Linked DNA regions of Homo sapiens. The protein of the gene in region 3 binds, or shares a complex with, the protein of the main gene of each other region. Each region holds a gene or a part of one and is shown on either strand. Other genes may lie near its edges.

Region 1 (7,033 bases), on a different chromosome or scaffold from region 3:
CATAAGGCATCTCTCCACAATTTCTACTGTTGTATTTGACAGGATAATCAAATCAAAAGTTGGCCATGGCAATGCAAAACATTATTTAAAAGCTAACATCAGCTGTCAGCTAGGGCAGTGCTTGAGGACTACATTATTATCTATTACTTTTTTCTTTTTTTTTTTTTTTTTTTTGAGATGGAGTCTTGCTCTGTCACTTAGGCTGGAGTACAGTGGTGCGGTATCAGCACACTGCAATCTCCGCCTCCCAGGTTCAAGTGATTCTCCTGCCTCAGCCTCCCAAGTACCTACTAATTCAAAGCCTTATGCTATGCTTAGGTGCTATTACTACCCATTTACAGCAATTTGCGCTCGCTAATTTTTTGTATTTTTAGTAGAGATGGGGTTTCGCCATGTTGGCCAGGCTGGTTTCAAACTCTTGACCTCAAGTGACCTGCCTGCCTCTACCTCCCAAAGTGTTGGGATTATAGGCATGAGCTGCTGCACCCGGCCTAAAGTAACTTTCAAGTATGAGTGGCACATATAGAGGAAAGCAAATAATAGGATAATTAATCTTAAAATATGATAACTGAAGGATAACACTAAAGTAGTCCACAAAATCATGTAGGGCTCAGAGGGGGGGACCACATTAAAATAGTTAAGAGTGGGAGGTCGGGTGGGGTGGCTCATGCCTGTAATCCCAGCACTTTGGGAGGCCAAGGCGGGAGGATCATGAGGTCAGGAGATTGAGACCATCCTGGCTAACACGATGAAACCCTGTCTCTACTAAAAATACAAAAAATTAGCCAGGCGTGGTGGCATGCGCCTGTAGTCCCAGCTATTTGGGAGGCTGAGGCAGGAGAATCGCTTGAACCCAGGAGGCGGAGGTTGCAGTGAGCCAAGATTGCGCCACTGCACTCCAGCCTGGGTGACAGAGCAAGACTCTGCCTTAAAAAAAAAAGTAACAGTGGGAACAATCCCATTAAACTTTAAAGATACATTTAGAACTAATATATTACAAATGCAGGACATAAAATTTAAATAAATGCAAAATTTAAATAAAAACTTACATGAGTAAACTAAAACAGTATTTTGGGGCACAGCTCTAACTTTCCAGATCATTGAAGAGAATAACGAGAATAACTCTACTCTCCCTCCCACCCTCCCCTACGTTTTTTAAAAATCAAAATGTCCATGTTAACAAAGTGGGAAAAAAAAAAGTCCATGTTTTTTCACAAAATGGTCTGGTCCCTGGCACTGCTTTAAATAACTCCCCGCCTCCCCCTGCAAAAAAAGTCCAGGCTGGGGAAATCATCATTCATTCTAACTGTGTGGCAGGTTGTACATTCAGGCTTGAAGGTCTGTTTACCACAATAAAAAAAAAACCTGAGTGAGCATGATATTAAATGATGCAGGGGAGATAAAACTGATGGCAAATTTTCCCATTCCTCAAATTAAACTGGTATGGTAGATGCAAAGTTTCATGAAATTTTTTTTTTTTTTTTAGACGGAGTCTCGCACTGTAGCCCAAGCTGGAGTGCAGTGGCGCGATCTCGGCTCACTGCAAGCTCTGCCTCCCAGGTTCACGCCATTCTCCTGCCTCAGCCTCTGAAGCAGCTGGGACTACAGGCGCCCACCAGCACGCCCGGCTATTTTTTTTGTATTTTTAGTAGAAACAGGGTTTCACCGTGTTAGCCAGGATGGTCTCGATCTCCTGACCTTGTGATCCGCCTGCCTCGGCTTCCCAGAGAGCTAGGATTACAGGCATGAACCACCGTGCCCGGCCATGAAAAATTTCATACAAAAAATGCATAACGTACTTTTTCCTCAGATGTACACTTTCCAAGAAAGTGCCACTTAATTAATGGCTCTCCTTTATTTACCTCAGTTTTCCTTCACTAATTTTATTTCCTCTCACAAATTTTATTCTTCACAAATTGTGACTTAGTTAAGTACTAATTTGTCAAATATTTCCATTTCTAAATCATTATATTACTATTAAGATATCAAAATTCCCTCTTATACACTATTGTGTCCACAAAAGACAGAAAAACTCATTTGAGGCTGGGTGCAGTGGCTCACGCCTATAATCCCAGCACTTTGGGAGGCCTAGACGGGCGGATCACCTGAGGTCAGGGGTTTTGAGACCAGCCTGGCCAACATGGCAAAACCCCACCTCTACTAAAAATACAAAAATTAGCCCAGCATGGTGGCGCGTGCTACCTGTAGTCCCAGCTACTCGGGGAGGCGAGGCAGGAGAATCGCTTAAACTCGGGAGGTGGAGGTTGCAGTGTGCTGAGATCCGGCCACTGCACTCCAGCCCGGGTGACAGAGCAAGACTCTGTCAAAAAAAAAAAAAAAAAAAAAAAAAGAAAGAAAGAAAAACTCATCTGATCAGGGAGGATTTCATGTCTTTCTCCCTAACTCTCCATATTTTGTATGAATTATTTCAATACTTCATAATCCTACAACTTGTAAAAGGAATATTTTTCCTTTTATCAGATATAGTAACAAAAGCTTCCCTTTATAAGGAAGAGAAACAAAAATAAAATTTTAATTATAGACTTCTGCTTTTCTTCATATTGTGGCACAATCATTGCAGTATACATTAAGGTGGGGTATATATGTATTTTTCTTTTTTTATCTTTTTTTTTTTAGATGGAGTCTTGCTGTGTCACCCAGGCTGGAGTGCAATGGTGTGATCTTGGCTCACTGCAACCTCCACCTCCTGGATTCAATTAATTCTCCTGTCTCAGCCTCCCTAGTAGCTGGGATTGCAGGCGCATGCCACCATACCTGGCTAATTTTTTTGTATTTTTAGTAGAGACGGGGTTTCACCATGTTGGTCAGGCTGGTCCCGAACTCCTGACCTCAGGTGATCTACCCACCTCCGTGTCCCGAAGTGCTGGGATTACAGGCGTGAGCCACTGTGCCCGGCCTATGTGTGTTTTTCTTTTTAACTTTCATTCTAATGATAAAATACCATCCCATTATTAGATACTATTATCACAAAAACATTAATCACCTTATTAACTTTGAACTCCTTCACATCCATTGCTTCCTGGTGTTTAAATTGACTGCTATTAGTAATAGGGATGATGGGGATGGCATAAGTAGGTTTCATTGGCTGTCTCTGTGCCATAACCTCAGACATGATCTCTCCATTGTAGTCGCCCAAATTATACCTAAAATTATACAAATGAAAGTTTAAAATTATATATATTTAAGGAATACAATGTGATGTTTTGATATACATTTATACTGTGAAATAATTACCACAATCAAGCTAATTAACATATCCATCACCTCACATAATTACCTTGTGTGTATATGTGGTGAGATTACTTAAGATCTACTCTTAGCAAATTTCAAGTATATAATACATTGTTATTAACCATGCTGTACATTAGGTCTCCAGAATGTATTCATTTCATAACTGTAAGTCTGTACCCTTTGACCAACATATAAAATATATAATTTTTATTTGTCAATTATACCTAAATAAAGCAGGAAAAAGAAGAAAATTTTGGAAAGTTAGTTTTATAAGTATTTATCTTTATAACCATTAATAACTAGCTGACTGAGATATAATTATAAACACCAATTACATTTAAGGCAAGATTGTAGTTAAACTTTGACTATTCAATTTCTCTCAAAGATTACATAATTCCTTTTGTTTCTTCCTTTTACTTTTTTGGCTTATAGCTTTATCATGGCATATAAATAGAGGATTGTTGGGAAAAAATCAAAAGCTGGAATTTTAATGTAGCAATTTTGGTGAAAGATTTGGTGAAGTTGAAAGTAATGCCTAAAATGGTGCTAAGGATCTTTCTGCTAATTAGAATTGCCTGGGCTTTAAAACTAATTTTTCTAAAAGTAATCACAAGAAATTTAAAAGTGGTTTTCTTTGGGGATAGGGACTAGAAATAGGGCAGAAGTTTTCTTTAAGTTTTCATTGTGTACCTTGCCAAATGCTTGAGTGGTAAGATATATGGGCCTTTCTCCCTCTTTCTTTACCCTTTTCTATTTAACAATCCAGTGTTTTAAATTTTATATGCATTAAAAAAGAAGCAGTACTATCAATTAACTCAAGTCCTACATGCAACTCAAGGACCAAAAAAGACCACTTTGAAATGGAAATACTTGGTATGTTTTAACTTAAGTGAATCCAGTCACTTTTAAAGAAAATAGAGGAAAACATGTAAAAGTATAAAAAGTATCATACCACATATTTAAAGTCTCTATTATTAAAAAAAGATATTTCTGTAATTAGATTATTGCATAGGAAATAAATTAACTCAATATACAAAATGTTAATGGCACTATACTTCCTCTAACATTATTAAAATATACATTACCTCTTTTCCATAATTTCCAGTGTTAAGTGCAATAGCTCTCTTTTACTTTTTTCTCTTCTTTTTATCATCTCTAGAATAGTAACAGCTCGACTTAGATCTCGTCGCAGCTTAAGCATTTTTTCGTAAGAGGCTTCATCATTTTTGCGATTCTGCAAATGTGAAGTTGCTTGTTTAATGTTAGTAAGTATTTCTAACTAGTGGTATAGTTATTGACCCATAAAATTTATATATTTGAAGGGTTAAATTAGAATTTAAAGACAATAAAAGGGAGCACAGATCACCAGGAAATCAATTTTGTATTGATTTTTAAATGGATTAACATTAAAATATAACATTAATAGCTGCATAATAAATCTTAAGTTCAATTTAAGTATTTTTCTTATAATTGGAAAGTCATATTTGAATATAAATTAAACCACAGTATTGAGACAGTCATAACTATAAATAATTTTTATTATATAATTATCAAAAAAATTCTTCAAATTCACTTACTTTTCGAGTCTGCATTTTTTCAGTACGCCTTCTAAAAGCCACATAAGGATCATTTGTGCTGGAACCATCTCGCTTCTCTTGTTTTACTGATGGAATAAGAGATGGCCCTCGACAGTTTTTTCTCTTTTTAATCCAATATTCATAAACTTCTCTAATTAGTTCATCATCTTCTTTTAGCAGTAGTTTGGCTTCCTGCAGACTGACTGGCTAAATGTAAAACCATTATGTCATTTTCATACAATACACATACAAGGTTCATAAGTATTTACTTCTAAATTTAAAGGACAATAATCAATATTACAACATTATTAACAAATGGGAAACTTGAGGAGTACATTATGCCTGTCAGTCACTGAACTAGGGTGCTTTATATACATTATTTCATCTTTACGACAATCCCAGGGCAACCAAGGCACAGAAAAATTTAAACATATTGCTCAAGATTACACAGGTTACTGATAAGCAGAGATGAGATTTGAATTCATACTTTTTAACTCTAAAGCCTGACTGATTACCCCCAACCTGCAATCTCACACTCTTTCCATACAATACAGTTCTTTACATAGAATATGTATATACTTGTTATATACAAATGAAGTTGTACCTGCTGACCACTGCCTTTTTCTAGGCGGTCAATCATCTCCTCAAATTGCAATGGGCAGATGTCCATTTTCTTTTTCAGTTTATTCACAAATACTTCATCTTCAGAATCCAAATCATAATCAGGCTGTTCAGCATCCAAACTAAAAGCTGACAGAAGGAACCATATGCAATCATTTACTGTGTGAATTCACCGACAAAAACTCCACAGATGTCTGCATAAAAACAAGACCTAGACTTTCTAAAGAAATAAGAAAGAATTCTTGGATTTTGTTTTCAGAGTCGCAAACAATCTAAGCTTAGATTTGTCTTACACATTTAAAGTTAAAGAAAGGAGATTATCTTTACTATGAATATACATATAAGTAATAAAAGACAATGGATGCGACACCCTCCAACCACTCCTAAAAGCAAATACACTAGAAGCCTATTAAGAACATAAAGCGATCATTAAAACTTATTTGGTTGAACCATGTGAAGTGCCATTTTTATAGCTCAAAAATCATCACATAGGCAATTTTTATAATATAAAAGGAGAAGGCCTTTAAGATTTTTTTCTATAATATTTAAGTCCTATTTTGTAGATTATTCAACTACTTTACCAAAAGCTAAGGGAGTGGTCTTTAAAGTTGAAGTGTTAGAAGCCACTACCAATAACAGTACAGGTTGAGAATCCCTCACCCAAAATGCTTGGGACCAGAAGTGTTTTGGATTTTGGAATATTTGAATACGTATAATGAGATTTCTTGAGGGTGGGACCCAAGTCTAAACACAAAATTCATTTTTTTCACATATACTTTATATGCATAGCCTGATGGTGATTTTATGTAATATTTTAAATAATTTTGTGCGTGAAGTTTTGACTGTGACCCATCATCACATGAGGGCAGGTGTATAATTTTCCACACGTGGAATCACATTGGTGCTCAAAAATTTCGAACTGCGGAGCATTTCAGATTTTGAGTTTTCAGCAGCTGTCACTCGGTGAGTATGTTCCTGCCTAGGAAGTTTGTTTCTCTACGCGAACACTGTCATGCTGATGGAAATGGGAGGATCTTAGATCTGCAAGAACCGCTGCTACTATCAAATGTTGTTTAATTACTTACCAAAATTAAGCTAGGTTGATATGAATATAAGCAAAATATTAAATAGCTTTAATATAAAAATTTGTCTCACATCTTTCCCTTACTTAATTCCTTCTACTAACATTACAGTCCACATCTTTAGAATGGTATAAGGCCCTTTTTTCCTATTCTCTCCAGTGTTATCAGTTCTTTATGATCTAGTAACATCAGATTTCATTGATTTCATGCAGTATGCTATTTCATGACTGCAGGCCTTTACAAAAATCCCTGTTTTTCTGCTTGCCCACCAAGGAGGCAAATGCCTATTTATTCTTTTTAGCACCCAGCCTGGTATCACTCATCTAGAATCCTTTTTTGATTTTTCCCCACCCAAGAAGTGGTTCCTAACCACTTTCATCTTTTTTAGTGGCTAAGAACCCACTTCACATACTTTATAATCTGCTTGTTAAGCATGCCTCCCTATTAGAATGTGTGTGATCTCTTTAGGGAGAGGCATGCCTTCTTTACTTCTGTACCGCT
Region 2 (7,402 bases), on a different chromosome or scaffold from region 3:
TAAGGCAATAAATTAGAAAATAAAGAAAGGTTTATACATAAAGAGGTGATAAACATTAATGCTGAAATAATCTGCATTAAAGGGAAAAATAAGGCTGGGCACAGCAGTTCACGCCTGTAATCTCAGCACTTTGGGAGGCAGAGACGGGTGTATACTTGAGGTCAGGAGTTCAAGACCAGCCTGGCCAACGTAGCAAAACTCCGTCTAACTCTGTCTCTACTAAAAATACAAAAATTAGCCAGGTGTGGTGGCACACGCCTGTAGTCACAGCTACTCGGGAGGCTGAGGCAGGAGAATCGCTTGAACCCAGGAGGCAGAGGTTGCAGTGAACCAAGATCGCACCACTGCACTCCAGCCTAGGTGAAACAGCAAGACTCTGTTTCAAAAAAAATAATTAAAAAAAAAAAAAGGGAAAAAGAAAATCTACCCAACAATAGCCACGTAAATTATGGTTAATTCACATAATTGACTCCAACATAGCCATTTTAAAATGTCTATTTTTTTTAAGTAGGGAGAAATGTTTACAAAGTAACTTTATGTAGAAAAAGTCAAAATGTTAAATCAAGCATACAGTACATTCTCATCCATGACAGTTCCTATGGTGTGAGCTACCTTCTTTTTAGCCTTTACTCAGTTTCAGGCACTGTGCTAAAAGTTCTACAAGTACTATTTTGTTTAATCCCAACAAAATTCTGATGTAGTTACTATCATTGTGCCCATTTCACAAAGGAAAAAATGTAGGTTCCAAACTGCCCATGGTCAATTAGAAACTGGCCAAAAGAGGAGGCAAATCGAGATCTGACTTCAAACACTGTATTCTCTTAGCTACTGTATACAGCAAAGAGGAGACTGAGACAGAAGTGTGACAACATGCTAACAGCAGTTCTCCCTCGGTGGTGGGATCAGGAACCATGAAAGATCTTTTCTATACTTTCAAATATTTTTCAAATCTTCACATAATCACAAATTGGTAAAAAGAATGATTTTAAAATCTGCAAAATAACTTTTTTAAGTGTACAGAGGGATTCAGAAGAAAAGTTAGGCAACTTACATTTCCTCATCTTCATCTTCTTCATCCACCCAAACTGGCTTCTTTTGAGGTGGAAAATTACCTTTTGCTTCATTCTCCACTTCTGAGTCACCCGAGTCTTCATGTTCTTGAACCTACAGCAGACAAAACACCCTCAAGCACTGAGATTTTCCTATCCCATGACTGCAGACACATAGGCCTTACAGCCAAATGGCTCATAGAATGTTTTTTCTACCACTCTCTGATGAAATAATGGGATGGAATGCTACCATTGCAAATGCTGGAAGCAGAGGCAGAAAATGGAGAAATCAGAGAATGGCACCGACTGGACAGGTGAGGCAAGATGGAACAGTCAAGGAGAAAAAGTCAACACTCAACACGCAGGAAGGAAAACACCAAGTAAGACAAGAACAAAAGATGAGTCTGCAGATGAAAAAAGGAGGAGAAATGTCAGAACTACAGAAATTACAGGACCGGAGGCAAACTAGAGTCAAAGATATCTCCATTTTCCCAATCTGTTTTTGACCCCCTACCTCCTTAAGAAACTTTATACCAGCAGAGAGCGCAATGCCTCATGCCTGTAATCCCAACACTTTGGGAGGTCAAGGTGGGAGGACTGCTTGGGCCCAGGAGTTCGAGTCCAGCCTGGGCAACATAGGGAGATCTCGTCTCTACAGAAAATTTTTAAATTTAGCTGGGTGTGTGGTGTGCACCTGTGGCCCCAGCTAACTACTTGGGAGGCAGAGGCAGGAGGATCACTTGAGCCTAGGAGGATGAAGCTGACTTCTGAGTTTAAAGTGTTCGGAGAATTGTGCAGGTGTAATTTATCTGTGACCAACAAGAAGAGCAACCAGTTACTATTAGCAAAAGGGAGATGGAAGACTAATAGGTGCCGCTACACTCCAGTCTGGGTGACAAAGTTAGACCGTATCTCTAAATAAGTAAAAAATAAATATACCATTAAATCTAAATTCTAAAGTTATAAATTTATACCATAAAGTTTATACTATCAAATCTAAACCTAGGCCGGGTGCGGTGGCTCACACTTGTAGTCTCAGCACTTTGGGAGGCCGAGGCGGGCGGATCACGAGGTCAGGAGTTTGAGACCAGCCTGGCGAAGATGGTGAAACCCCGTTTCTACTAAAGATACAAAAAAAAATTAGCCAGGCGTGGTGGCGCACGCCTGTAATGCCAGCTACTCCAGAGGCTGAGGCAGGAGAATCGCTTGAACCCAGGAAGTGGAGGTTGCAGTGAGCCGAGATGGCGCCACTGCACTCCAGCCTGGGCGACAGGGCGAGTCTAAAAAAAAAAAAAAATCTAAACCTAGACCACAGAATATCCCTTGAAGTGAGTTTGAGCTTCCCAAAACCAATGATAGAAATGTCCAAGTGGTTTCTACTTGCTCTACTACTAGTCTAATAGCCTTCAAACCCAACAGCTCCCACCTCCGTACACTGTTCCTTTTCCAGACGACAAAACCGTCGCACAGTTCAGCATGTTTCCAGTAATAGTTCTGTACTTCCCAAAAAGATTGCTGCCACTTCTCCTACAAGCACCCGAAGGCGGCTCTGGTAAGCAGCTGACATTAACTAGGTCAGCATTTGTGTAATAAACATGGCCTGGGTAATTCTCGGTGAGCTTTCCTCTGCCCCCTTTATCTAAAATTTCACAGGCCTCTACACACGCCCATCTCCCTTTCCCGAATGTCCTTTTTTCTCTTCAGCACTTGTCACCAACAAACCTGAAGTTTACTCGTTTATCTCCTCTATCTTGTCTCTGCCACTAGCACACAAGCGCCAAAAGGCAGGGATTTTTGTCAGTTTTGTCCATTGCTGTGTCTCCTCCAGTGCCTAGAACAATGTCCGGGACTCTCTCAAGAAAAGCCTGGTATAGAATTTAAAGGGATAGCAAAATGTGTGCAAAAAGTATGATCAATCACGCAGGGTTTGCCATTGCCAGAAAGGGTATCTGGCAACTAACAGGTTCACCAATATTTGCTAAATGAACGGAATACACGATCATTCTCAAAACATGGTGGGTCTCATAGTCACATGGGGACATAGTTACAACGGAGATGCCCAGGCCCGTGCCCACGAATTGATTCCATCAACGAAATCGAATTCCTGAATCACAAGGAACTGAGGCAGGTGATCAAAAGACCACCCTCAGTTTGGGAAGAGGCTAGCGGAGTCGAGCAGCAGCGAAAGATGCTCACGACCACAGTTCGCAAAGCAGATACCCGAGCAGCGGCGCCTCCAGGGGCGGAGAAAGACGCGGTCCCCGCCCTCCAGGCACTTTCAGTCTGGAGCAGGGAGGCGAGGGACCCGCAGCTGCGACCCTCCGCGCCCGCGTTCTCGGGCTCCCTCCCACCTGAGCGCTCCCCGCCGCCGCAGGTCGCCCAGGCTCCGCCCCCCGGAGCTTCACCGCCCACCGCGCGCCCCGCCCGAGTGCGCCCAGCCCGCGCGCCGCGGCCTCCCTCACCCTCGGGCCTCGCAGACGCCGCAGCAACGCGTCCTCGTCGTTCTCGACGTCGCCGAAGACCAGCTCCTCCAAGCACCGCTCCACGGCCGGTTTGTCCTCCTCCAGCCTCAGGCGGTTCCGCTGCCGGAGCCGTCTCTCTTCCTCCGCCGCCGCGACTGCAATCGCAGCGGCCGCCGCGCTCGGCCGGGCCGGCGGTTTCCGCTGGGATGAAGGGGCAGGCTTTTGGGGAGGCCCGCCTGGCCCCGCTCCGGCTTTCCAGTCCGGCCTCATTCCGGGCTTCCGCTTCGGCTTCGCTCCGGTTCTCCGGTCCAGTTTCATTCGTCTCCTCCGCTCCGGCGGCATCGTTAGGTTTGAGGAGAAACGCAGGCGCTCACGTGGAACCTCGCTGCGCATGCGCCCAGGCCCCTCGCGGGCCGCCGCCGCCGAAGCCCCGGGGGCCGGAAGGAGCCTGCGCAGCCTCTTGCCACGTGACCAGCACTCCCTCCCTCTACGTAACTCCCGCTCCCCTACCCAGCCCCGCCCCGTGTGGGAGTTCCTCCGGGAGGGCCAATCTTCCGGGTGTAGGGGGAAGCGGCGTGACTGGAGTGGAAAATTTTTCCAACACAATTTCGCAGCTGCAACATATTGAAAGGAGCGCAAGAAACCCCGACTATACACTGGGACGGCTGAATGGAACTTCTGCTTTTCCTCTTGGCTGTAACCACTTGACTTGACACAAGCCCCAATACGCTTTCCACCCTTCGTCTTGGTACGGTCCTTGGAGTACGGAGCCTGCAGAGGGTCCCACGGTGGAAGCGAGAGAGGAGGGTATGTAGGGAAGTGGGCCAATCGGGGCGCGGGTCACGGCGCAGGCGCGCTGGGGAGGGAGGGCTATGCTAATGTTGTTGATATCCTGGGGCCACCCGAGTTAAAGGGGGGAAATCCGGGGGCTGCTGCACCCGCCACCGGTCTGGGCCCAGCCGGGGGCCCCCTGTAGTCGCCGCAGTCCCGGGGAGAGGCACCTGCCCCCAGCCCGGGGAGGGGGCGCCGCGGGCTCGGGGAGCACGGACAACCCCTACCCATGAGGCCCTGATGGAAAACACAAAGGATCTGGTGAGAGCCGAGCGCGGCAGCCGCTTTGTGTGCCAGGTGGGGGGGACGCCTGCAGCTCTCCGACCCCAGGAACCCCGCAGCTCCCTGACCCCGCTCCCTGGCCTGCTTCTCCATCCCACGCCCTCTCAACCTCCGGAGCCCCCCTCCCCCTTCCAGCCGTTAAACGATTCAGGGGTTCCCCTCCCCCCACCCCGTCAGCCTTGGACTCGTTGGGGTTCTCTCCATCTCCTCCACCCTTTGGAAGAAAAATTCGAGAAGAAAGTTTTTCTCTGCGTCCTGCCCCCGCCCCCTGCTCTGGCTAGGGGGGAAAGGCTGGATCCGAGACTTTTCCTTTTTTAGCCACCCAGGGTGGGAGAGTGGAGTAGTCCTCTCTTCTTGGCGGGGAGGGGGAGCACAGTTTCGTTGCTTTGCAGGGGAAGGTGTCTATCTGCCTTGGGGGCAGTGCCGCGAGGCGGTTTGCACGTGGAGGTGGAAATATTGAAAGGGGGCGGGGTGGGCACGTGCGGGAGAGGTGGGAGTGGTGTTTGGGAAGCAGCCTCCAAGGCTGCATATTTAAAAGGGTTTCAAGTCGGTGGACTTCTGTGACCATTGCGTTCTCCTTTGTGAAATAAGAATCCTAACATTTCAGAGTCGGAAGAGACATTAGAGGTCATCCAAAGCAGCCGTCCCCTCTGCAGCCTCTCTGACAAGTGGTAGGTAGTCTGAACCCTGCTTACACCCCTAAAAGCACTGAGAGCTCACTACTGCCCAGGAAAGCCCATATTTCAGTAGTTCTAATTGTTGTCTGCCTACCCTTATTAGACCCTTCAGTCTCATTCATGTCCTGGTTAAGTTGCTCCTTTTTTTACTTCTCAAATTTTCTCTCACATCCTCCTCACCCACCCACTGCTCATTGGCCTATATTTTGTGTGCCAAGAAAGAACAGCAGGGAAGTGGAGGAAGGGGGGTTGAGAGATAGTGAGGGCTAGCCGAAAACTTTGCTGGGTCAGTGTCAAGTGTGCTGGCTTACATGCCTGAAGATGTTTTTCTACAGGAAGCTAAAGAATTACAATATGGGAATTTCGTGCCTGTTTTCTCTTAGGAGTGCATCTTTTTGAAGTTAGAAATTTCAGCGTCATCTCCGTGGTTCTTGTATCACAAAACACATTTGTTTATTACCTAAATCACTTCTAAGGATGTCTAAAACTGAAGTGGTTAGAAGCATCACCTGGTAGAGGGATGATTAGATGATTACCGCCCACACCCGTATTTGACCTGTGTTCCTCGGAAGCTAGTCTTTCCTCCAAGGGCCTCTCTTCCAAATGCTTTTACTCCTTCTTTTTTTTTTTTAAGTAACTATCTTTTATGAGATTTGAAATTTACGAACCATTTTAATACTTGTTTAGAGTTTACAATATTTTTAATTCTCCTTATATTAGCATGCACCAGTACTTATCACTGGGTGGTTGAGATAGTTGAAACTATTGTCACTGGGTGTTTTTCTAACATTCTCCTTCATTTGGTGAGCTATGCTGCCTCTAAAAGTAGTTTTATTGGCCTAAGAATCTTGGATATACCTATTACTCTCTAATGTGGTGAAGTGGGTGTCAAGACATAACAGGTATAATGTAGAAATAATGCATGTGATTTAAAAGCCAGCAAATAAATTTCACCTTAAGCCCCAGTCTCCTATTTAAAAGGTTAGACTCAATTTTTCTCTCCTCCTCTTATAACTTAGAGACTGTTGCTTTGCTCTTGTGGACTTAGACTGTTATTTTATTTTTCATTTGTTTACCTCAACACCAGAGTGTTTAGAAAGAAAATAGCTGTACTTTTTTTTTTTTTTTGCACCACCTCCTTCTCTGAATAACAAGTAGCTTCTATCTATCTAAAACCCCATACTGATTGCTTGTGAGTACCTTGCAAATTATGGCAACATCTGTCTTGAATAAGTATTTATTCATAGTGCCTTACGTTGTTGCGTCATGCTTTTTAACCATCCAGTTTCTAACTTTATGTAATGTTTGACATAAAATATTTCCTCTAAATCTACTCATTAGAATTCAGCTTGTGAAAAAGAATCAGTAGAGGTGTAATAATAGTGTTTTTAACATTTTAATTAATAAGGAGTTCCAAGTTTTTTTCCTGCTTACTTTAAACATGAACTGTCATGACTTAAGTTGACTGACTTTGGAGACATCTGCATTCTAAACATACTAGACAGGAACAACTGGTTTTATTTTTAAGACGCTGCCATATTCTTTAAAGCTGGTTATATGTTGACCTTATTATCTAAACCTTTCTAGATGTTCTAGTGCTGCTTTTGGTCCCTCAATAATGTTGAAAATTAAAACAACATTTTAAATTGTTTTCAAATGTAACATAGTGATCAAAGGAAAATATAAGCTATAGTTTAAAAGTGAAAACAACATATTAGGATAAATACTAAACCACTGAATTACTAAAAGCCAAGAGTGCTCAGTAGTCTGAGTAACCACATTCTAAAATTAGACAAGTGACATTCTTTGGGTTGCTCTTTGTTTCTCAGCTTTTCATCTTTAAAATGTTTGCTAAATAAGATATAACCTTTCACACTTATGTATCATTAGTCTGAGGGTTTCAAAATTCAAGAAAGAATAAAAACATCAGGACAATAAAAGAGAAAGGACTTACAATAGTTAAAACAAGCTAAGATATTTCTCCTAACACCACAGTATTCTTAACTGTGCAAGATGACTTTTGATTTCAGGCAAAAATTGCACATAGATTTAATCATTATTTTTTAATAAACCTTGGCTTAAGGATTTTTTTACCTGCAAA
Region 3 (7,033 bases):
TGAAGAATATTTTATATATTGCTAGGTACTTAAATTAGTGGACCCACAGAAGAACGAAATCTTAAAAGTTAGAAGGAATTTAAGAAAGCCTTCTAGTTTAAACTCTAAATTTGCACACGAATTGGTCTGGAAACATAGAATTCTTTGAGGTTTTGTTAGTTTTATAGTGGCTATAGCTGTCTTCCAGAATTGAATGAGTATACACGTACATCTCAAAGTTTGCTTTGAAAGTATGATTGAGTTCATTTAGGGATGGATACATTGGAAAAACAACTTAAAAGACTTGAGTTTGGTCATGATTCTGCTATTTAGCTGTGTGACATTAAATCTTAATATTTCTGAATAATAATGCCTTCCTAAACCCAATGTTCATAGAATTGTTCAAGGATCAACTAAGAGGCCTGGCGTGGTGGCTCACACCCATAATCCTAGCACTTTGAGAGGCTGAGGCGGGTGGATCACCTGAGGTCAGGAGTTCGAGACCAGCCTGGCCAACCTGGTGAAACCTCGTCTCTACTAAAAATACAAAAATTAGCTGGGCGTGGTGGTGGGCGCCTGTGATCCCAGCTACTCGAGAGACTGAGACAGGAGAATCACTTGAACCCAGGAGGTGGAGGTTGCAGTGAGCCTAGATCGCGCCACTGCACTACAGCCTGGGCAACAGAGTGACAGAGTGAGACTCCGTCTCAAAAAAAAAAAAGGGTCCACTAAGGAAGAAATTTGGAAACTACAAATTGAGTAGTTCTGTTATGATATGTTATTTATTCTACCACATGGAGGGAAGATTGTTTCTCTTAGGAAAAAAAAAAATCATAATCTATAACAGAAGTGGTCCTAGCTTGGAAGATACCTGGAGGGACATGTGTTTGTGAGTAAAGACATGTTATATCCACATCCCAGAGTCACTAATCATTTCTTTAACCTGTGGAGTGCACCTTAAGTATACCCTGAAAAGTCTAGTACTCCATGGAAATTCATAGTATCATCTTCTTTCCCCCTCTTTTTTAAAAAAAAATTTAATAAGTTGAGGCAAAATCTAAAATACAGATTGAGTTGTATGAATATATACCTAATTTAAAGTGGGAGTTATAGAACAACTGGAAAATGGGGAAATGCAGATCAGAATCCTTTCAATAGCTGAACTTTAACAAAAATTTTTTAATGGAATGCAAATGTACTTTACAAGTTAGATCAATTTTAGTTAACTTTTTATTTTAAATACTGTTCATTAACTCATATAGCTTTTTCTAGACTTACAATGGCATTTACTTTTAATTATATCCTTTCTAGAAATTCTGAACATCTCCCTTTTACTCTTGGCCATTGTGCATAGTTTCTAATCCTATACCATCCCCACCCTATTTCTAACAGGTTTTTGTTTTGTTTTGTTTTTTGTTTTTTTGAGACAGAGTCTCGCTCTGTTGTCCAAGCTGGAGTGCAGTGGCCCAATCTCGGCTCACTGCAACCTCTGGCTCCCGGTTCAAGCACTTCTTGTGCCTCAACCTCCTGAGTAGCTGGGATTACAGGCGCCCACTACCATGCCCGGCTAATTTTTGTATTTTTAGTAGAGATGAGGTTTTGTCATGTTGGCCAGGCTGGTCCCAAACTCCTGACCTCAAGTCATCCGTCCTCCTTGGCCTCCAAAAGGGATTACAGGCGTGAGCCACTGCCCCTGGCCTCTAACAGGTTTTTTATTACTAAGGTAGGATGACTGTGATAACAAGATATGATAATGAAAATGCAGTTGTATGTCCTGCATATGAATATTTTAAAATGATTAATTTATTTTTGAAATGAAAATGTTTTCATTCAGGACTACTATAAAGCTTTGGAAGATGCAGATGAGAAGGTTCAGTTGGCAAACCAGATATATGACTTGGTAAGTAAAAGTAATGTGCATACTGTGCCATAAGTACTTGAATAACAGATTATATCTTAAATTGTATTGGCTTAAATGTAGTAGGAAGAAGCAACTAAAACTGAAGTATTGCTCTCTTGATCACATCTAATTTGACATTTCAGTGTCCATTTTATGGTTTCTTTGTGGAAAAGTCAGAGTGGTTAGTTAATGTGGTGAGAACTGTACATTTTAGCAAGTCTATACGGCGGTAAGGTGGTTTCTGATGTTAGATATTTTTTAAACAAGAATTAATGTTTAACTTTATTTTACTAATCCTTGTCTTCTTAAGGTAGTGTGTTTACTTGCCTTATACATCATTTTGAGATTGTTTCTGTGGTAAAATACACCTAAGAAGACTGCTTTGACAAGAGTTCTTGGTAGTCTGATTAAAATGAAGAAGAATCATTTGAATCAGTGTTTATGTGAGTGATGTTAAAAGATCGTATGTAACAGCTGTGTCAGTTGTTTAAGCAATACAAGATGACAAACTTTAAACAAGATTCTTTTTTTGCAGCAGCACTTCTAAAAGATTGAAAACACCAAGAAGATAGATAGAATATTCACTATTTCTCATATTGATGCAATTGTGGTGCTCTTTTTCATTTGAAACATCTTCTCCTAAAATATACACTTTAAGAAATAGTCATTTCTGTTTTTGCATTAAAGTAAATTAAAGCAGAAAACACATGCTCACTTTTGGCTAACTTCAGTGTATAGATTTCATACTTATGTTGTCTTTCCTGGGTACAGATTTATTACTGAACAAGTACGTGTAAGTAAAATGTCATTGGTGAGCAGGACACAAGATAAAAGGTGAACACCACATATGGTGTGAATTGTAAATGCTTATACCACAAACTTGAAAATGTGTCATGTAGAGCCATGGAAAATGTCTAGTTGTTTTTATGTAGTACACACATTTTAATGGTGCTAACAACCTGGGCTCTTTTGTTCATAGAGTTATTCTGAAAAAAATTTCATAAAAGACACTGCCTAAAGATAGGTAGAATAGGCTGTAGCTTGATTTACTGTGGAATAAAAACCAAAAAAAAAAAGGTCTTAATTGTTTCAGTCTTTAATTATGTCTATAAACTTAGAAAAAGGCATTTACATTTGAATCTAGACTAATTTGTTTAGTAACATTCTTCCTCATATTCAATGACTGTATGTATCAGTCCTTATTTAGAGACTGCCTGCTTTTTAATTCATATAGCTCTTTGGTTCTATTCTTTGTTTTGTTTATTATTTTGTTGTTTTATTGCTTGTTAGACCTTTACTAAAGATATTTTGTGTATTTAGAAAAAATATAACATAAATATATGCTTTTTAAATATGTGTGTGTGTGTATTCATCTCTTATTTAAAAACCACACTGTTCATCCACTCTGTGCCTGAAAAAAGGGAGCTGTACCTGGGTCTAATGGAGGAATAAAAAGTAAATACTAGGCCGGGCGCAGTGGCTCACGCCTGTAATCCCAGCACTTTGGGAGGCCGAGGAGAGTAGATCACGAGATCAGGAGATCGCGACCATCCTGGCTAACATGGTGAAACCCCATCTCTACTAAAAATACAAAAATATTAGCCGGGCCTGGTGGCGGGTGCCTGTAGTTCCAGCTACTCGGGAGGCCGAGACAGGAGAATGGCGGGAACCCGGGAGGCGGAGCTTGCAGTGAGCAGAGATCGCGCCACTGCACTCCAGCCTGGGCGACAGAGAGCGACTCTGTCTTAAAAAAAAAAAAAAAAGTAATACTAGAAATGGCTCTTGTCCTCAAGGTGTCTGTAAACTACTGTTGTGGGGCAGACATACCTGCAAACTAAAGTGGAGAATCCATACAGAAACATGTAATAAACATTAACCAGTTGAATATTAAGGGGTGTCTACTGAAAAACATTGAAGTAAGTCATGCAGAGTTACTTACTGATTTCTTAGAGGGTATAGGAAGAGTTTTGAACAGAGTTTGTTTAGAAAGTCAAGGTCCTGAATTAGGTATTGTATTGAGGGGAAAGCATTTCACTCAGAGATAATGGCATAAACAGAAGGAAAGTACAAATTCAGAAATTAATTGAGAAGGGATAGATTCCAAGGCTAAAGAGTGAAGTAATAAAGGCGAGGTAGTAAATTTAATAAAGCATAAGAAATACAACAGAAAGCAAGTGTCCATAATGGATCCATGCAGATGTGAGTTCAAACCCTAGCTCAGCCATTTCACTGACACCATGACTTTGGAAAAGTTATTTAATCTTGAACCACAGTTTCCTGCTGTAAAAAAGCAATATTAATTTATACCTTACTGAAGGGTTTGCATTAGAATACATACAATGCTATTAGTTTGGCAGATAGTAGGATTTGCTCCTTCTTTAAGAACTCAGTCCATCTCATTTCCTGAACTGGAATTTTCTATTTTCCTGAAGCCACTGCTTCCCTTTCAACTCTGCCAAGTGGAAGCTGCTGTCTCTCACTCTCCTAGTATCTCTGAGGCTTCTTTTTGTCTTTTCTTCTTTTTCTTCCCCCACCCTTTCTTTTCTGCCCCCACCTTTGCTCTACCCTCTTCCTTTTTATTATTTTTTTTCTTTTTCCCTTTCTCCTTCCCTGCCTTTCTTTTTAAATACTTTAATCCTATTTCAGGTGAACATTATATCCTTAATATAAAAAATCCCTTCTCTTTCAGACTTAGTGATAATCATCTCAGTTACCCTCTGCCTCTTATCACTATAATTTAATGGCTTCTAGGTGAGGCTCAGATTGAAAAACTGGTACCCGGTTCACAGTTCTCTGTTGCAATCATCTTATACTACCTAGTCATCTACTTCTTTGGCTTTTGTAAATGCTAATCCACTTCAGTCGCCACAGACTGAACCTGATCATCACTTGGAATTGCCCTGCCTCTGATACTTCTTGCGTCTACACTTCCTCCTATTTTATCAGCCCTTTCCTATTCAATCAAGAGACTGGTTGAGCTCTTGACCACTTTTCTTACAGGTACCTTCCACATTGTTGCTGCCTTAGGGCATGTTTTTACTTGCTGCATCTTTGCTTCATCACTTATGCCTTCTCTTTTTCATCTTTAGCCTCTTTTCTTTCTATTGGCTTCTATACCACAGCATTTAAACATGCTCAGGTCTTCCTCATATTTAAAAAGAACTCAGGCAATCTAATATAAATCGTGTCGTGACCGTGACTCTGCTTTAGCTAGTGTAGTCTTCCTTAATTTCTCATTCAGACTCTTTGACACTCCCTTACCTTCAATTTATTCCTAAATTTATGGCAATTGGGGTTCTATTTACTAATCCTCTATAACTTCATTTAATGAATTCTTTATTGCTAAATTCATCAGACAGCTTCAATTCTTTTTAACTGACCCTATTGGTAAATTTAATGCTTATTGCCATTCGTTTTGTCTTGCCATTCTTGACCTTGTATTACCATGTGACTGCCTGCTCTAGATGCTCCCACCTTTGTGACCTTTCTTAGTCTCCTTCTTGGGTACAGCTCATAATGATGGTGTTCCTCAGGGTTCTGTCCTTGACCTACATGGTTTCTTACTCTTCAAGTGGTTCTCACATGAAGGTGATTGTCTTCCCCTCTTCTACCTGCCAAGAGGGCCAGGAAGAACAAATTCCACAGCGTAAAGACCTGTTCTTTCAAATGCAAGTTTTATCCCCAACCTTTGCACACCACCCAAGTTGAGAGACACTCCTCTATTGCAATTCCATGTGTTCTCTTAGTGTTAACAATTATACGTTAATTATTCCTGAAGCCCAAGCTGTTTCTTTGAGTCTTTTAATCTTAGCTGACTATTCCCAGGCCCTAGAACTCAGTGTTTTGAAATTTAAAACTCAAAGCATCTCCTTTTTCTTCTCTAACTACCCTCCCCTGCCCCATCACCAACTTTTTGTTTCTAAATCTCACATGAACCACACTGACCTTGTAGTCATTCAGATTAGGGCACTGAAAGTCACCCTATACTCCTTGTCACTTCCTCACATTTTTTTTTTTTTTTTTTTTTTTTTTTTTTTTTGAGACGGAGTCTCACTCTTTCGCCCAAGCTGGACTGCAGTGGCGCTATCCCGGCTCACTGCAAGCTCCGCCTCTTGGGTTCATGCCATTCTCCTGCCTCAGCCTCCCGAGTAGCTGGGATTACAGGCGCCCACCACCACGCCCGGCTAATTTTTTGTATTTTTAGTAGAGACGGGGTTTCACCGTGTTAGCCAGGATGGTCTCGAACTCCTGACCTCGTGATCCGCCCGCCTCGGCCTCCCAAAGTGCTGGGATTACAGGCGTGAGCCACCACACCTGGCCTGGCAAACTATTAAATAAAGACTATTTTAGATTTCGATAAGTACACAGGAGGAAATAAACATTGTAGAAAGAGAGGAAGGGGGAGAAAGGGAGAGACAATTGAATAACTGGCGAAGGCTGTTAAGAATGTAGTCTAAGGAGATGACGTTTGAGGTGGTACTTGGAAAATAAGAAAGAACCACCTGTTGGAAAAGCTAAGGAAAGAATGTTTCAGGCACGTGGTATACCAAGGGCAAAGTTTGGAGTGGAAAAGACTTGGCAAGTTGAACCAAGAGAGAGGCCGGGGTGGTTGGTCTGTGGTCTGTAATGGGAAAGGAGCAGCATGAAAGGAAGCAGGCAGGAGCTAATGCATGGGGGCCTTGCGAGCCAGTCTAGGAGGAGAGTGATTCTTAGTCTAAAGCGGTGGGAAGCCAGTGAAGGACTTTAAACAGAGGCGTGGAATATAGACCTTAAAAGAGATTTTGTGTAGGTATGCCTTTGCTTAAACATTATATTATAGGAATTTTAAATAAGCATGTATTACTTTTACAGAATTTATGGTACATCACCATAGTATGCAATTATGTTTGATTTTATCCCTCAGTGTTTTATATGGCGTTGCATTTTGTTGTATTTTTTCATTGAAATATTTTATTTACTTTTAAACCAGTAGTAAACATTTTTTTTCCTGTGACCATCACTGCACTGGTCACCTCATTTATTAAGGAATAAACCAAACTACATATTATCAACATATTATCAATGAAGAAATTTGTTTTAGGGTTCCGGTAGAAGAAACTGACAGTTTATTTTAGTAGCCGTTTTAGTGAAATTTGACTAACACACACAAAAATC
Region 4 (4,427 bases), on a different chromosome or scaffold from region 3:
GCAGAAATATACACTGAGTGACAGAGACAGGGACACACTCCACATCATTCCCCATAGGAGCCACTCTTCTCCTCCCATCTCCCACCGGGCTCTCATCCATAAGCCCCCTGTCTTCCCCACCTACCAGTCCTGGTGGTCACCTCCCTTCTCACCTCCCCTGTGTCAGTAGGTCTGTCTGTTCTACTAGAGCACTGTCCCAGCAGCAGGAGGAGCCCGGTGCCGGGGGAGAGGGTGGGGGAACAGTGAGCTCAGCATTTTATTATTTTAGCTCTGGCCAGGTGGGGGGTAGTGGGAGATCACATATACACAGCCCCCATACCCTGCCCAGCCCTGAGAGCCTCTAGTGGTCATTAACAGCCATGGCATCTCTTCCACTTCCCTTCATACAAGCCCCAGTCTGAGACATATGAGTTCGACTAGAATCAGCCAGTTCCTCCTTATTTGGTGCCTGCTGTATTCAAAACAGTGAGTGTAAAGTGATAGGAAGGTCAATACAAGGATGTGTTTTGGTGTGCAATTTTCAGATGTTTATAATTTAGTTGGAGGAATGAATACAATTTAGAAAGGACAGCTCATAATAAATGCTATCGAATAAAGACCCAAATATATGCAGGTATTCAAATACTTCTTGCTCCCAACCCTAGACTGGACACCAGACAAAAGGGATCTTTCTATTTTATTAGATTAAAAAACACAACGAAACCTGTAAGAACTAGGGGAAAAGGAAAAAGAAACAGATTAGGCAAAGATCAGAGATGACAAAGGGGAGAAGCAGGGAGAAGAAACGGAACAGCAAGAGCCCCAATCAGGGCAGGAAAGAAGTTTCTGAGGACTAGACATCTCTTCATTTAATGACAATTTTCTGGCGCAAGGCTCGGGGCCCAGAGCCAGGGAGGGGCTCAGGAGGTGGCGGGCCGGGGCCCAGGGCTGAGGCAGTGGGCGGCAGTCCATGGGCAGTAATGTACTTCTTGTAAGCCTCACGAATGATCTTGAAGGCTCGAGCAGTGGCATAGGGTATGTCTGTAACAGGGTCCCGGTATAGGGCTGGACGATGGGTCACTGGACAGACCTCACGAACAGGGACTTTTGGGGGCCGCCCTTGGGGGAACCATTCCTCGAAAGTTGCATCATCACTAAAAGTGATGAAGGTACGTGAGCAGCGAGCAGGGGGGTTGACGGGTCCAGTCCCAGCATGAGGAGTCAATGCAGACACCGAGGGAGCAGGATCAAGTCTGAGGACAAAAGACAAGGAAAAACACAAAGAGCTGAGGAGAGAAGACAACAGATACAGAAAGAAGGAAATCAGGCTGGGTGCAGTGGCTCACACCTGTAATTCCAGCACTTTGGGAGGCTGAGGCAGGCAGATGACGAGGTCAGGAGTTCGAGACCAGCCTGACTAACAAGGTGAAACCCTGTCTCTACTAAAAATACAAAAATTAGCCGGGCGTGGTGGCGGATGCCTGTAATCACAGCTACTCAGGAGGTTGAGGCAGGAGAATCACTTGAAGCCAGGAGGCGGAGGTTGCATGGAACCAAGATCGTGCCATTACACTCCAGCCTGGGTGACAGAGCAGCGAGACTCCATCTCAAAAAAAAAAAAAAAAGAAAAGAAAGAAAGAAGGAAATCAGAGAGATGAGGAAAGAGAAAAAGGAGGCAGGGTGTTGGGAACATTCTGAGGAACGTACTAAGTGACTGATGGGAAAAGAAAGCTAGGCTAGAAGGAAAAACAGGAAAGAGAAGAACAGAGAAGCTAAAAGAAAAAGGAATAAGAAAGAAATAAGCTGGGCTGGGCGCGGTGGCTCACACCTGTAATCCCAGTATTTTAGGAAGATGAAGCGGGACGATTACTTTAACCCAGGAGTCTGGGCAACACAGCGAAACCGTCTCTACAAAAAATACAAAAATTAGCATGTGTGGCTGTACTCCCAGCTACTTGGGAGGCTAAGGTGGGAGGATCGCCTGAGCACAGGAGGTGGAGGTTGCAGTGAGCCGAGACTGCACCACTGCATTCCAGCCTAGGTGACAGAGCAGCATCATGTCTCAAAAAAAAAAAAAGAAAAAGAAATTGAGCTGAAGGGAGTTAGGAATCTGAAAGAAATCTCCAAGTGTTAAGGAGAGCTGTGTGAGAAAAGCAAGCAAAATGGGGCCAAGAGAACATGAGCTGAACACACAATCTCTTTTCCTCTTGAGATTCACTCACCCTTCTATGTCAACGTTCTCTTCCTTGGGGCCTGGCTCCCCAACAAGTGGCACTGTCACTGAATGATAGGTGATTATGGGCCCGGGGCACTTCCGCTTCTTATGAACCTGCTTCTTTTTATCAGCCTCGAGCCGCTCATATGTCTCTTTAGGGTCAAAGGAAGAAATGAGGGGATGATCAGAATGTCCCTTTTTCCCATATCCCAGTACTGTCCCACGATCTCTCAATTATCTTCCTGGCTATCTAGTCACTGCCAACTACCAGAGACAACTATGGAAGTCCCCTAAGGCCGTCTGGCACCTCCCATTTTGTAAGTTTTCTGCTTATAAGTTTTTTCTTGACATCCTCTCTGCTCATTTCTCAAGTACACCTGGGCCCTCTATAGTACCTCAGAGTTGGAAGGTACCCTTTGATGAGGAGCTTATTTGCTTTCCCAGATACCAAAATCTCCTCTACAAATGCCCTGTCAATTCACTCCTACAGCTGGGTGTGCTGGCACACGCCTGTAATCCCAGCTACTTGGGAAGCTGAGGTGGAAGGATCGCTTGAGCCAGGGAGGTGGAGGTTGCAGTGAGCTGAGATGGCACCACATTGCACTCCAGCCTAGGCAGCAGAGTGAGATCATATCTCCAAAAAAAAAATTAGTAAGGTAGGAAATTATATTTAAATATAGAGATTTCTGGTCGCTCTTAAACAACAAGAAAATCTCGCAACCCTGGGTCTGCATTCTTACAGGGGAACAATTAGCTGAGCTGAGTAACTGTTCCTCCTTTCAGGCACTCCTCTCCAGTTCACCACCATCCCTCTGGCTGGCTGCACACTTCATGTTACCTGCCTGGTCTCCGTGATACTGCTCCATGGCGATGCACTATTGGTATATATGTCTCCTCCTTAAGGGCAGTGACTATAACTCATATTGCCTAAATATTATCAGGGTGATACAGCATTTTCCACATTACAGGCACTCATTAAATATTTGTTAATGAATAAATGAATCAAGGCTGGGCACAGTGGCTCATGCCTGTAATCCCAGCACTTTGGGAGGCCGAGGTGGGTGGATCACCTAAGGAAAGGAGTTCAAGACCAGCCTGACCAACATGGTGAAACCCCGTCTCTACTAAAAATACAAAAACTATCCGGGCGTGGTAGCACATGACTATAATCCCAGCTACTTGGGAGGCTGAGACAGAAGAATTGCTTGAACCTGGGAGGCAGAGGTTGAAGTGAGATTGCATTATTGCACTCCAACGCGGGCAATAAGAGCGAAACTCTGTCTCAAAAAAATAAATAATTTTAAAAATTTAAAAAAAAGGGCTGGGCTTTTTTTGGTGGCTCACACCTGTAACCCCAGCACTTTGGGAGGCCAAGGTGTGCGGATCATGAGGTCAGGAGATCAAGACCATCTTGGCCAACATAGAGAAACCCTGTCTCTACTAAAAATACAAAAAATTAGCTGGACGTGGTGGTGAGCACCTGTAGTCCCAGCTACTCGGGAGGCTGGGGCAGGAGAATGGCGTGAACCCAGGAGGCAGAGCTTGCAGTGAGCTGAGATCGCGCCACTGCACTCCAGCCTGGGCAAAAGAGTGAGACTCCGTCTCAAAAAAAAGAATCACCATGCACGGTGGCTCACGCCTGTAATCCCAGCACTTTGGGAGGCTGAGGTGGGCAGAGCACCTGAGGTCGGGAGTTTGAGACCAGCCTGACCAACTTGGAGAAACCCCGTCTCTACTAAAAATACCAAATGAGCCAGATGTGGTGGTGTATGCCTATAATCCCAGCTACCGGGAGGCTGAGGCAGGAGAATTGCTTGAACCTGGGAGGCGGAGGTTGCGGTGCGCCAAGATCATACCATCGCACTGTAGCCTGGGAAACAAGAGTGAAACTCCATCTCCAAAGACAAAACAAACATACGAAAAAAAATGAATCAAAATATTCCTCGTCCCCTTCCTCTGAATGAACTCCAGATTTCTGTGTCCTTAAATATGGTTATGATGAACACAATTCCCTAAAGTCTGACCATAAAAGAGTACTCTGGAGGCCAGGTGCGGTGGCTCATGCCTGTAATTACAGCACTTTGGGAGGCCTAGGCGGGTGGATCACCTGAGGTCAGGAGTTTGAGACAGACCTGGTCAACATGGTGAGACCCTGTCTCTACTAATAATACAAAAATTAGCTGGGCGTGGTGGCTTGCACCTGTAATCTCAGCTACTCGGGAGGCTGAGGCAG

Evidence for each region.
Region 1: ING3 (region 3) and EPC1 share a complex: the UniProt entries of both Homo sapiens proteins name them as parts of the nuA4 histone acetyltransferase complex.
Region 2: ING3 (region 3) and MBTD1 share a complex: the UniProt entries of both Homo sapiens proteins name them as parts of the nuA4 histone acetyltransferase complex.
Region 4: ING3 (region 3) and VPS72 share a complex: the UniProt entries of both Homo sapiens proteins name them as parts of the nuA4 histone acetyltransferase complex.

The regions. Positions count from the first base shown.
Region 1 is NC_000010.11:32,288,159-32,295,191, forward strand, and holds part of EPC1 (enhancer of polycomb homolog 1), read right to left. Parts: intron 5,580-7,033; coding exon 5,434-5,579; intron 5,037-5,433; coding exon 4,830-5,036; intron 4,487-4,829; coding exon 4,338-4,486; intron 3,477-4,337; exon of another isoform or gene 3,299-3,476; intron 3,165-3,298; coding exon 3,005-3,164; intron 1-3,004. UniProt on the Homo sapiens protein: Component of the NuA4 histone acetyltransferase (HAT) complex, a multiprotein complex involved in transcriptional activation of select genes principally by acetylation of nucleosomal histones H4 and H2A.
Region 2 is NC_000017.11:51,257,036-51,264,437, reverse strand, and holds the start of MBTD1 (MBT domain-containing protein 1), read left to right. Parts: upstream 1-4,388; 5' UTR 4,389-4,582; coding exon of another isoform or gene 4,583-4,603; exon of another isoform or gene 4,604-4,639; intron 4,640-5,231; 5' UTR 5,232-5,295; intron 5,296-7,402. Other genes in the region: UTP18 (U3 small nucleolar RNA-associated protein 18 homolog), read right to left, coding at 1,052-1,164, 3,512-3,853. UniProt on the Homo sapiens protein: Chromatin reader component of the NuA4 histone acetyltransferase complex, a multiprotein complex involved in transcriptional activation of select genes principally by acetylation of nucleosomal histones H4 and H2A.
Region 3 is NC_000007.14:120,953,746-120,960,778, forward strand, and holds part of ING3 (inhibitor of growth protein 3), read left to right. Parts: intron 1-1,813; coding exon 1,814-1,879; intron 1,880-2,414; coding exon of another isoform or gene 2,415-2,426; exon of another isoform or gene 2,427-3,235; intron 3,236-7,033. UniProt on the Homo sapiens protein: Component of the NuA4 histone acetyltransferase (HAT) complex which is involved in transcriptional activation of select genes principally by acetylation of nucleosomal histones H4 and H2A.
Region 4 is NC_000001.11:151,175,800-151,180,226, forward strand, and holds the end of VPS72 (vacuolar protein sorting-associated protein 72 homolog), read right to left. Parts: intron 2,347-4,427; coding exon 2,202-2,346; intron 1,266-2,201; coding exon of another isoform or gene 1,233-1,265; coding exon 845-1,232; 3' UTR 505-844; downstream 1-504. UniProt on the Homo sapiens protein: Deposition-and-exchange histone chaperone specific for H2AZ1, specifically chaperones H2AZ1 and deposits it into nucleosomes.